3 separate regions of the Homo sapiens genome follow, and all the other regions are linked to region 1. The links come from fine-mapping of genetic effects on gene expression. A gene starts in region 1. Each other region holds a variant in brackets. All regions are shown on one strand. Distances are between the middles of the regions.

Region 1 (4,247 bases):
TCAGATGCTGAGATTCCCTTTGCTATCCCATCAAAAACCCAGAGATTTAGTCCTGAAAGACAGCAAAACGCTGATTCTCTAGCTAGGAGGACAGCAGGCCCTCTTAAGGATGAAGGTGTCATGTTGAAAAAGGGGAAAAGAAAATTAGAGGACTAACATCTGAATAACTGAAGCTCACTAAAAAGAAAATGGAGGAAATAAGTAACTCAAGTTGCTTGGAGTTCTGACTCTAAGCTCAGTGCTATTATAATCTTTTAGGCTTACTGGTATATTTGATTCATGTTAACTGTAAAATGACATTTTCTAAGTTTCACAAATATTGGGGTTAGTCAAAGGGACTTTGTTCAGGTGATTAAGGGTGGGGCTTGCATTACCCCTCTCCTAAGCGATCATTCCAAAATGACTGGCAGGACTAAAGAATTATGTTTAAAAAACAAAAAAACCCAAAGAATGGATTATCTGTAAAAGCTATGCAATGACGTGCCTGTTAGAGCTCACTGACCACACCTTAAGTTGTCTAAGAGATGAGGCTATAACTAGCTAAACTCTAATTGGCTAAGGCACCAAAGCCAGAAAATAGCCCATAACATGCAAATATACAGACATAAAATCAACTGTAAGTGCTGGGCACAGCTGCTCATGCCTGTAATCCCAGCTACTTGGGAGGCAGAGGCAGGAAGATCACTTTAGCTCAGGAGTTCAGAGCTGCTGTGCGCTATGATTGTGTCACTGCACTCCAGCCTGGGGGAAGAAGTGAGACTTCATCTCAAAAAAAAAAAAAAGATCAGCTGTAGAAGAAAAAATAATGTCAGGGTTACCTGTGGAGTCTGGGGGTAGACCCACTATCACACCTAGACAGGGATACAAACCATGAGAGGCTTCTCTTCTAAGTGGGCCGTTTCAGTCCAAGTTGCTGACTTGGACAGCAACTTGGACTGAATAAACACAGGCAACTGAGTTTAGCATTAAGCTTTCAGAACCTTCAACTGACAACTCAACGGCTGTTTCTAAATCTCAGAACATTTAAATCAGAATCTAGGTAGCACGTGGGCACCTACGTAGTTTTAAAAGCTTTCCAAGTGATTCAACTCCAAGTGAATCAGAGTGGAGCATCGTTGCCTTAGTCATGGCATCTTTCAAATTCGTTAGTACATTTTTACATAAAAATAAACATCAAACAAAAGAAGAACAACTTTTTGGTAAGAGGGTGTCTATTCTTTCCTTTCCTTTAGTGTCCGCAGATCTTTCCTCCTGCTGTTTTCTTGTCTACTCTTGTTCTTGAACACCCCCTCTTATTTTTATGTCTTTAGAAAGTGCCTGGCACAGTATTTCAGACAGTTAAAATACTGTATCAACAAAGGACCCATAGATACTGTATTAATTTTAAAAGATGTGTAGTGAATATGATTCAATGAGTAAAATAATCCAGCTGGGGCGTGGGAGGAACGGATAATAAAACAAATAAGAGAACGGAAAAACAAAATTAGGAATTGTTTCTGGTAGACAGCTACTGCGGGCGTGGAGATCTAAACATGATACCAAATTGGGCGGAGGGGGAGGGAGTGAGGAAGGAATGGGCAGAGTGGCGGAATGGCCTGGCGAGGGCGATTTCCTGAAGGCTTTCAGGTTACAACTAAGGGATACCGGGAAAAGAACACCGAGCCCTCGTCCCGTATCTATCTAAACTAGCCGTGTTAACTTTAAGTCAATCTCCTCTCTGAACCAGATATTCCTCCTATCTAAAGGGAGGAGCCTGGCCTTAACATCTCTTTCCAAGTCTAGCTCTAATTCTGTAAACAGGGGATCAAACAGATCTCCTTTCTTCAGAAAAGGCCCCAGACGAACCCGAAGCAGGTCCTCGAGCTGCGAGCCACTCTCCACTTGCCACTCAACGTAGTCAGCCAGAGGGACGGATGTGCCACCAAGCACCACCTTCTTTCTAACGCCTCATCACCCCAGCCACGCACTCCGGCGCGGCGCCCAGTCCCGAGCGGTTCTCGGAAGTTTCCCACTCCTCCCCTAATCGCCCTCCACGCACGCCGGATCACGACCGGAACGTGGACAACCAGTGGTTGTTCCTCCCCTAAAGCACAGCATAAATTTGGAGAGATGCATCTAAACTGCGTGTGGGTTCGGGCTCTTTTAGGTGAATAGGGCTCGGCGGATCGACTTCCTCGATTATCTCCGTGCCCTGGACCCGCCCCCTCCGCCTGGCGCCAGGCCGCCGAGCGCCGATCGGCTCGATGAGCGGAGGCGCTGCTGCGGCGCTGCGGCCGACGCCGGGTCCGCACCAACTGTCTCCCCCTCCCAGCTTCTTACCTCGGCTTCCTACTCCTTCCCCCGCCCGCCCAGCACCGCCAGCCCGGGAGAGCTGCCGGGAGTTCCCCGGGAGCCTCAGGTACTGGCGCTGGCCTGTTCGCAGCGGGAGGGGCTGGTGTGAGGAGGAAGGAAACGAAGAAGACGCCCCTGCCTTGCCGCCCCCCGACGTCCTAGTCGGGCTGGTCGGCGGGCCTCGGGGATCTAGGAAGGGACCCCGGAGTGGGAAAAGGTTGGGGCCGGGGGTGCCGTGAGGAAGGAAGACGAGGACAGGGGTATGCGGACGAGGAGCAGTTGAGGGAGAGAAGAATTGGAATTGAGGGGTACTCTGGGGTGATGGGAAGAGAACAGTACCATGGATGGGGAAGGTTTGTTAAGAGTGGGATGTAGTGAGGAATTCCAGGGGGTACAATGGGGCAGGAAGGGCCAGCGTTAGGAGCAGATATATCGTGGGACGTGGCCTGGTGTGACAGATTGGGTGTGGGGGGTGAACGGAGCTGCCTGAAATTGTGTATTTAAAGGGCCCGGGGGAAAGAGCGCCAACCCTGCTGTGTTTATAATGACCGGAAGGTGGGGGTGAATCGTTACACTTGACAGGTTTTGCAAATAATATCTCCGGTCTGTGTCCATCCAAGTCACTTTATTTCTGTGAAACTGCATCAAGCAAGAAGGCTGATGACAGACAAGGAAGACGAATCAGAAAGAGAATGGAGGCTGGGAAAAGGAGAGCCTTTGCCCAGATTCAAAGCTATTGACTAGATAACGTACTACTTACAAAAACGCACACATAGACATTTAAGTATATGCTGATGTATAAGAAGCATACGGTGATGTGACTCATTTGAGTGAATTGTATAGTGGTGGTCTATCCTCAATGTGGAAGTACATGATGGCTCTCTTATTTACATGTATACCTAGTCACAAACAGCTGAATTCACATGTCTTTTTTTGTAGGAGAAATCTTAGGCAGACTATATCCTAGTCTACTTTCTGAGCATGATTTATTTCTACTAGTTGTTTGATACACATATCAGTTACTAATAATCAGTTGCAAATAACATCAAAGTTCATCAAGGTAGCTAATTAATCTGCCTACTGCTTTGCTGATGGGCTATTTGTTGCACATGGTTTCTTGGGATTAAGAGACCTGAATATGGTGTTTGCTCATCCTTAAGATTGTAGTTTTACTGTATGTCTTATAAAGGCATTATATAAGTCTGCCCGTTGTTTGCTTTGGGATGTTGAGGCAGCCTCATTGCAGGGGTTAAAATCTAAATACAGATAATAGTTAAAAGCACAAGTTCTTCAGTAATTTGCCTTGTCATCTGTTTTTCCATGCATTCTGTTACATTTCTGCATGAATGAAGTATTCTGACATCAAAGTATGAGGAATAAAAGGGCCAGATGTATGTGACAGAAATATTGTGGAACCAAGAACTCAAGAGCTGTTACTCAGGCAGCAAGAATTTGGTTTTTGTTACAAGTGAATAATTTCTGATTTGGAAGCATTTCTTATCAAAGAAAAGTGTGTCCTTTGGTTTTGACAAGCAGCTGACTTAAAACATTACTTTTATTTGGTTCGTGAAGCCAGATCCTGGGATTATTCTTTTTTAAGTGTATATCATTAACAAACAAACTGATGTCTAACTATACCTAATTTAAAGGTCTAAGTGTTTCTTCTTATGGAAAAGGAAGCAGGACTATTGGGTTGTTAGCAGGAAGTGAGTCTTTCTAGAACAGAATTCTGTAAACCTGATGGGCAACTAATTGAACAAATGATTAAAACTGATAATGCACAGCCATTGATTAATTTAGGCCTGTATCTCTGCTGTTTCAATGAATGTAGTGACTAACGTTATCGTTACTAAACTTTAGTTTTCTCCTAGTTTCTTGGTGCCTACTTTAAAGAAGCATCATAAAGAGTAAAAGAA
Region 2 (4,247 bases), 45 kb after region 1:
TACCCAGACTGGTCTCAAATTCCTAGACTCATGCTATCCTGCCTCAGCGTCCCAAAGTGCTACGATTACAGGTGTGAACCACCATACCAGGCCTTTATTGTCTTAATACTACAAAAAGCCATGGGAGGGGAGATGACATTGGAGGCACGTTGTACCCTGAGATAGTCTTCACAAATAAAGTGCTGTTGTTAGAAATGGAGACAGGAAGCAACCTGGTAAGGGCACTCTGAGAATGATGGTGTTTAATACAATCCACCATTCAACAGATGAGAGAACCGGGCAGGAAGATCAGATACTACCTAAATCCAACAGAGTCATACTTAGTGTGTGCCCATCGAACACTAAAAACTGCTGTGGAGCAGTGACTATCAGCCTGCTTTTCAGCTGTCAGTGTAAGAAGGGATTCTGACTAGTAAGCAAAGTTACAGCTGAGCAGTCAGTGATAGTGCACTTACCCTATTTATTGAGTAATTGGGCCAGATCTCATCTGAGGATGTCTAAAAAGATGCACATGGACCTATGAGTAACATTGTAAAAACACAGAAAAGAGAACATCCTCCTGATCATTCCCAGCAACATACTAACTCTGTCTTCCTTAAAAAAACTCCATGTCATTTCTCCACTCCCCCCCGCCAAATTCCACTATATACATGTGTATGTGTATATATATATATAAAATATATGTATATATGTGTGTATATATATAAAATATATGTAAATATGTATATATATAAAATATATGTAAATATGTATATATATAAAATATATGTATATGTGTATATAAAATATATGTATATATATGCGTATATCTATATACACACACATCTACACATCCATCTTTTTTTTTTTTTTTTTTTAGAGGCAAGGTCTTGCTCCGTCATGTAAGCTGGAGTGCAGTGGCACAATCATAGCCCACTGAAGCCTTGAACTCCCAAGCCATCCTCCTGCCTCAGCCTCCCGAGTAGATGGGATTACAGGCATGAGCCAACATGACCAGCCCTCATTGCTATACATTTTTGATAATTGTCCTCTTCCTGACATATACTTTCCTGTGGCAGAATTTAGAGAGGCAGAATAGTATATGAGTTGTATAGTAGAAATAACATGGATGTGCCGGGCACGGTGGCTCACGTCTGTAATCCCAGCACTTTGGGAGGCCAAGGTGGGCGGATCACAAGGTCAGGAGATTGAGACCATCCTGGCTAACGCAGTGAAACCCCATCTCTACTAAAAATACAAAAAATTAGCCGGGCGTGGTGGCAGGCGCCTGTAGTCCCAGCTACTCTGGAGGCTGAGGCAGGAGAATGGTGTAACCCGGGAGGTGGAGCTTGCAGTGAGCTGAGATTGCGCCACTGCACTCCAGCATGGGTGACAGCAAGACTTCGCCTCAAAAAAAAAAAAAAAAAAAAAAAAAAAAAGAACATGGGTGCTGAAATCATGGGCTCTGGGTTTTTGTTTGTTTTTAGAGACGGGTTCTCACTATGTTGCCCAGGCTGGTCTTGAACTCCTGGGCTCAAGTGGTCCTCCCACCTTGGCCTCCCAAAGTGCTGGGATTACAGGAGTAAACTACCATGCCTGGCTGCAGAGGATTTTTTGTTTTGTTTTTGAGACAGGGTCTCACTCTGTCACCCAAGCTGGAGTACAGTGGCACAATCATAGCTCACTGCAGCCTTGAACTCCTGGGCTCAAGCAATCCTCCTGTCTCCTGTCTCAGTCTCACTTGTAGCTAGGATTACAAGTGCATGCCACCACGCCTGGCTCCACTCCGTATCTTTACTCCTCTTTATAGTAATAGTCCTTGACAGATTTCACTATACTTGCTATTTCCATTTTTTTTTTTTATTCTCCTCAACACTTTAGTCAAGATTTTGCCTCCATACTCCACCAGCCTTACTCTTGGGAGGTGCCCAGTGACCTATGTATTGCTAAATCCAGTGGTCCATTGTCAGTCCTGATCTCTGTGCAACAGCAGCATTTGATGCAGTTGATTACTCTCTTCTCCTTCATACATGCTTCCAGGGCTTTGTTTCTTCTTACCCTTA[T/G]GGTTGTTCCTCCTGTTCTCCTCAACTCTTAATATTGGAGTATCCAGGATTCAGCTCTTGGTCCAGTGTTTACACACATTCTCTTAGAAATCTTACCTAATCTTGTCATTTGAAATCACATCTTTGTGCTGACAAATCTCAAGTTGTTGTCTCCCACTTGACTTCCCTTGAATTTGGAGTCATCTGGTACTCTTTTTGACGTCTTCATTATTTCAAGTTGAGCATGTCCCAAACGCATTCCAGTCTGCTTTCACAGACCTCCTCCACATGCATTCTGTCCCATCTCAGTTGATGGCAACTGAATCCTTCCAATTAGGCCAAAAACTGTAGAGTCATACTGACTCCATAACTTCTCTCTCAACTCACCTCTAATTCATCAGGAAATACTCTGGTGCTACCTTTAAGATATCTTTAGAATCTGACCAGTTCACACTGCCTCCATCGTGACCACCTGGTCCTCTCCTACCATCATCTCTTACCTGGAATACTGCAGTAGCTTTCTAACTGGTCTCAGGCTTCTACCATTCCCCCTCTTCCCAGAGTCTGTTCTCAACAGAATAGTGAAAAATTCTTTCAAAATGTAATCAGATCATGCCATTGCTTTGCTGAAAACTCTTCAGTGGCTTCCCATCTTCCTTGGAGTGAAAGCCAAAATTCTTTCCGTGGCCTACAGGGTCTCGTGATGCATCCCCAAGTCACCTTGCTGACCTCTGCCCTTGTCTTTGCCTTCCTTGCTGTGCTGCAGCCACACCAGCCTCTTTGCTGTTCCTCAGACACACCAGGTGTGCTCCTGCCATAGGCCTTGGACTTGCTGTTTCTCCTGCCAGAAAAGCCCTTCCTCCTCCTCAACCACTGTATGAAAGTCATTCTCTTGAATGACTTTCTCAAAATCTCCCCGAGTACACCATCCAATCCCTTTACCCTCTGTTTTTCCAGAGCATTCTAACATTCCAGAATTTTCTCTGATATATCCCAAACCACTCACTACAACAGCAATTGTCACAGTGAGTGCTCACATAATTACTGAATGTATTAATTATGTTGAAGATGTGAAGGAAGATGGTAGTTTTGAAAATGATGTACCAGGAGGGAGGAGCCAAGATGGCCGAATAGGAACAGCTCCAGTCTATAGCTCCCAGTGTGAGCGACGCAGAAGACGGGTGATTTCTGCATTTCCATCTGAGGTACCGGGTTCATCTCACTAGGGAGTGCCAGACAATGGGTGCAGGTCAGTGGGTGCGCGCACCGTGCACGAGCCGAAGCAGGGCGAGGCATTGCCTCACTTGGGAAGCGCAAGGGGTCAGGGAGTTCCCTTTCCTAGTCAAAGAAACGGGTGACAGATGGCACCTGGAAAATCGGGTCATCCCACCCGAATACTGTGCTTTTCCGACGGGCTTAAAAAATGGGGCACCAGGAGATTATATCCCGCACATGGCTCGGAGGGTCCTATGCCCACGGAGTCTCACTGATTGCTAGCACAGCAGTCTGAGATCAAACTGCAAGGCGGCAGCGAGGCTGGGGGAGGGGCGCCTGCCATTGCCCAGGCTGGCTTAGGTAAACAAAGCAGCCGGGAAGCTCGAACTGGGTGGAGCCCACCACAGCTCAAGGAGGCCTGCCTGCCTCTGTAGGCTCCACCTCTGGGGGCAGGGCACAGACAAACAAAAAGCAGTAACCTCTGCAGACTTAAATGTCCCTGTCTGACAGCTTTGAAGAGAGCAGTGGTTCTCCCGGTACGCAGCTGGAGATCTGAGAAAGGGCAGACTGCCTCCTCAAGTGGGTCCCTGACCCCTGACCCCCGAGCAGCCTAACTGGGAGGCACCCCCCAGCAGGGGCAGACTGACACCTCACACGGCCGGGTACTCCAACAGACCTGCAGCTGAGGGTCCTGTCTGTTAGAAGGAAAACTAATAAACAGAAAGGACATCCACACCAAAAACCCAACTGTACATCACCATCATCAAAGACCAAAAGTAGATAAAACCACAAAGATGGGGAAAAAACAGAGCAGAAAAACTGGAAACTCTTAAAAAGCAGAGCGCCTCTCCTCCTCCAAAGGAATGCAGTTCCTCACCAGCAAAGGAACAAAGCTGGATGGAGAATGACTTTGACGAGCTGAGAGAAGAAGGCTTCAGACGATCAAATTACTCTGAGCTACGGGAGGAAATTCAAACCAAAGGCAAATAAGTTGAAAACTTTGAAAAAAAT
Region 3 (4,247 bases), 37 kb after region 1:
GTTGGAGACTCACAACAGGTCATGAGGAAACTTGTTAAGGGTGTTGGTGGAAATGTCCTATATTTGATTGTGGTCATGTTTATTAACAGCTGGATATATTTGTCAAAACCTATCAAAAGTATTTTAAGAGGATAAGTTTTATTCTTTGTAAAGTGTATCTCAATATACCTGGCTTTAAAAATAAATGAGTTAATAAAATTATCCATAGGTGGGGAAAGAGAATCGCTAACACCTCTCTTAATATATCTGGGGGCTGTGAAACTCTTATATGTTTAATGACAAACAGATTTTTGTTCATGTTATTTGGAATAAGAGAGCTTTGGACTTGCATGAATACAATACTGCCATTTGGAGCTGTAAACATTTTCTGCCCAGTGTTAGAAACCCAAGGAAGAAAACTCTATTCATTGAGGTGTTTTAAAATTGATATTGATGTTTTCATTCAAATCTTCTTAAGTAAAGCCAAACACACGTTTAACAGGGCAAATTAATGTACATTTCAGGTAAAGTTGAAAAACTACCGTAGAAATTCCAAATTGTTTTAGAAATGCTTCAGATTAATAAAAAAGGCTTAAAGTACTTTATCATATAAACTGAACCTCTATGATTTGATGGGCTTATTACTAATGTGAGACCAGAGAAAATGTACAGTATTTTAGCAACTCTGTTCAAGTGTCAAGATATGATGAATAACATAGGCCATGCAATTCAAATGGTTCAATACATCGAAGGTAGCAGTTTATAGCACTTTTTTTCAAAGTATATGAGAATTCTGTTAGTTTTTTCTCCCCTTACTTTCTTCTTTGCATTTTTATCTCCATTTTGAGGAATATATTTTAGATTCTTTATGAATAGCCTCATGTAATAAGCAACTTTGCCTAAGAGCATTCTGTGTCAGTTTTGTAGTTAAGAAACCTTAAGGTGATGAGATGATTTAGTATGATGCAGTAAATAGAACAACAAATAGTCTTGACTTTATTAACAAGTCAAATATTAATATATATGCCCTTTTGTGTGTTGTAGATAAAAGCCATCATGGCTTTGGTTGCTGCTATCCTTTTGCTAGTGATTATCAGTAAGTATTTATTGGATTATTACTTCCTAGGGTATCATTTATTTTGGAGTTCATTTTAATTCCCTTTTATTTTCAGTTGACCTAGTATGTCTGAAGTCAGGATTGAATAATGACTTCTGACCTGTCTCAGGAGCTCTTAGAATCTATTGATCTCTGAAAATGCTCTTAAGTAATATGTAAAATTTTATGTGAATATGTATATGTACATTTTTATGGAGAGAGGGTCTATATCTTTTGTCAGATTCTCAAAGGGAACTCCTGTTCTGCCCCCAACCCTCACCCCCAAATCCAGGGCTAAGTGATTTGTTCAAGGCCAAATCTGGTTCCTATTACACTAAGGTCTAAAATACTCATTTTCTATTTATTATTAACTCTCAGGAATGGCAGTTTGCATTTTGTAATATTGTTTTGGAAGTATAAATCCAAATACGTTCTCCAGATGATTTTTTTTTGTTTGGTTTTTGTTTTGTTCTGTAGTTGAGCATAATTTCCATCATTAAAGCATGACTCCTTCCCGTCCTTTTTCCCTTAATGTTCTTTTAAAAATCAGATCATTTTAAATATCTCTTTTTCTTCAAGGCCTCTGCCTATGTTTACAGAGAGGTTTTATGACGCTTTGGAAAGTATCTAAAAATAATCATTTGAAAAATTATATTATGCTGTTATATTTTTAAACAGAAAAAAATGTTTTGTTACAAAGAAATACAGTCAGTCCTCATTATTCATAGATTCCGTGTTTGCAAATCCAGTTACCAGGTAAAATTTATTTGTAACCCCAAAATCAGTACTCATGGTGCTTTCACAGTCATTTACAGACATTTTCAGAGTAACAAAAAATTGTAAGTCCCCCAACCCACACATCCCTAGCTGAGGTTAAACAAAGCCATTTCT[G/A]CCTTTTTATTTCAGCACTCATAACATAAACATTCTTTTTGTAGTCTATTTAGTACCACATTTTCTGCATTGTTGTGCTTTTTGTTGGTGATTTCACTGTTTAAAATGGTCCCCACACGTGGTGCTGAAGTGCTGTCTAGTGTTGCTCAGTACAAGAGAGCTGTGATGTGTCTTCATGGAAAAAATACACATTAGGCAAACTTTTGTTCAGGCATGAATTATAGTGCTGTTGGCCTTGAGCACAGTGTTACTGAATCAATAATACATATTAAATAAAGTGTCTTTAAACAGAAACACATATAAACCAAGGTTATGCATTGATTGACAAAAATGTAGTAGCCAGAGACTCACAGGAACTTAACCCTATATTTTCCCTAGAAGCAGTGGTTCCATATTCACTAATTTAGTGTTTGTAGTGACCTTATAGAAAATAATTACCTCAGAAACCAAGAATCAATCATGTATATATAGTGAGCAATTGGAAAATGTGAAATATTAATAACAAAAAGAAGAAAAATTCAACTATAATCTTACAATTAGTAGAGATAGCTACTAATATAACTATTATATATACTTCTCTTTTCCTATTAATATACAAGCATGTTTTTTAAAAAACTAAGACTATATTATATGTACTTTCTAATAAATATATTGTGACTATTATCCCAGGTTATCAAAATTTTTAGTAATATTTTAACAGCAGATACAAGCTATGGCTATGCCATTATTTATTTAAGATGCCAATGTTAGACATTTAGGTTGTTTTATGATATTTTTTGCTTCTCCTTTCCCATTGATTATTTATTACCTCAGATAAAAGTTCAGTCAATCCTCATTACCCATTTCTAAAAGTAGACACAACTACATTTAGGAATATTGCTTCAAACATAGCATATATATCTGATGTTGATATATTGCTTTTTTCATGTTTTCTCTTACAGTTCTTATAGTCATGAAATACCGTACTTGATTTGATGACAGAGATCTTCATTAAACAAGATCTGGGACAGTAATAAAAGATTGCTGCATAATTTAAATGAAACCTATGTGTATATAACTTTCAAAACTTCTTTTTCAAGAAACTAAGAGGCAAGTATCACTTCAAATTGGAACGTTGAGAATGTCCAATTATCTTCTCCCTTTCTAACAAAATGTTCTTTTAATAATTATGTTTAAGGCAAAGAGAACTAGCCTCTATTTTTCCATATTTCAAGGATCTAATTTGAAACTAGATACTTGCCAGTTCATTATTTGTGTATATAAACACTGATTATAATATTTCATATTAATATTTTAATGGCATAAGGACTTGCATTATTGCATTAGGGAGCGGGTCATGCTGGGGGTCAGGAAGCCTGTGTAGAGTACCAAATTATATGCTGAAAGAGATGCATAACCATTCTGTCAATATTTGCAGAAATATAGTTCCTTTCATATTACAGTTGTTTTGCAAGCAATTTCCACATTTATAGGTGTAACAAAAGCTAAATGTTGTAAATGTTGTTGCCCTCAGGTATAACTAAAAACATTCCAGTAAATATATTTTTGACTGTGTAAGAGAATGTGTAGTAATTTTTTTGGCATTGGATTATGGAAATGGAAATTTTTAAACAGTGTGAAAAAACATGGTATGGCATCATAAAACTGGAGATAATAAAGTTATTGAAGAGTGTCATTGGAGTATTTGAAAATGACCAATATATAGCTGCCAGTCATGGTCCAGTCTGTTTTCTGTTAAACTCCAATAAAGAGAGACCAGTCAGTCCTAATGTGAGTAAATGAAATTTACAGGTAACTTACTTACTCCTTAATTTTATTTTAGTTAATAGCCTCTAACTTCCAACTATCTCATTTACCAAAAGTACAAAAAGTAGCAAAACCATCTATTAATACTTTGAATTTTATATCTTTGCATTTCCTGTTCATCCTTGAGGAGATGTATGTTGCACAATCAAATTTTGCATCAGCCAACAGTAATGAGTAGTAGAAAGTCAGGAACCTATGTGTATATATATATATATATATATATATATATATATATATATATATACACACAAACACACACACACACACACACACACACGCACACATATGATAATCAGTCAGTCGGTAACCAAATGCTAGAGAGTGACCATTAACCTAAGCCTGTTTTTATAATGAAAAAATGTGTTAACTTTAAAATATGCCAACCTCCTTGTGTCTTTTAAACAAGTCAGAGTGAAAATACATTGTCCCCTAAGGTGTGGGGAGAGGAAGCTTTATAATAAAATTAGTGATTCTG

Alleles and levels. Positions count from the first base shown, and alleles are read on the strand shown. Sizes are in standard deviations (SD) of each study's normalised expression.
As copies of G replace T in region 2, the expression in prefrontal cortex of the gene that starts at base 2,243 in region 1 goes down (small effect, 0.34 SD a copy in CommonMind).
For the expression in skeletal muscle of the gene that starts at base 2,243 in region 1, allele A in region 3 goes with a lower level than allele G (small effect, 0.29 SD a copy in GTEx).

Evidence for each region. PIP is the estimated chance that this variant, and not a neighbour inherited with it, causes the effect.
Region 2: its variant is the best candidate, but not a certain one, in a credible set for the expression of VAMP4 in prefrontal cortex (CommonMind, PIP 0.74).
Region 3: its variant is the best candidate, but not a certain one, in a credible set for the expression of VAMP4 in skeletal muscle (GTEx, PIP 0.67).

The regions. Positions count from the first base shown.
Region 1 is chr1:171,740,061-171,744,307 of GRCh38, reverse strand. It overlaps VAMP4 (vesicle associated membrane protein 4), which reads left to right and starts at 2,243. Exons shown (of 8, transcript NM_003762.5): 1 at 2,243-2,398.
Region 2 is chr1:171,695,303-171,699,549 of GRCh38, reverse strand. No RefSeq gene overlaps it. Among named protein-coding and RNA genes, the nearest start is that of VAMP4, 45 kb to the left of the region's middle. The variant T/G (reference allele first, on the strand shown) is at 2,043.
Region 3 is chr1:171,703,195-171,707,441 of GRCh38, reverse strand. VAMP4 (vesicle associated membrane protein 4) reads left to right here. Exons shown (of 8, transcript NM_003762.5): 7 at 1,024-1,075; 8 at 2,908-4,247. The coding sequence ends at 2,936. Among named protein-coding and RNA genes, the nearest start is that of VAMP4, 37 kb to the left of the region's middle. The variant G/A (reference allele first, on the strand shown) is at 1,967.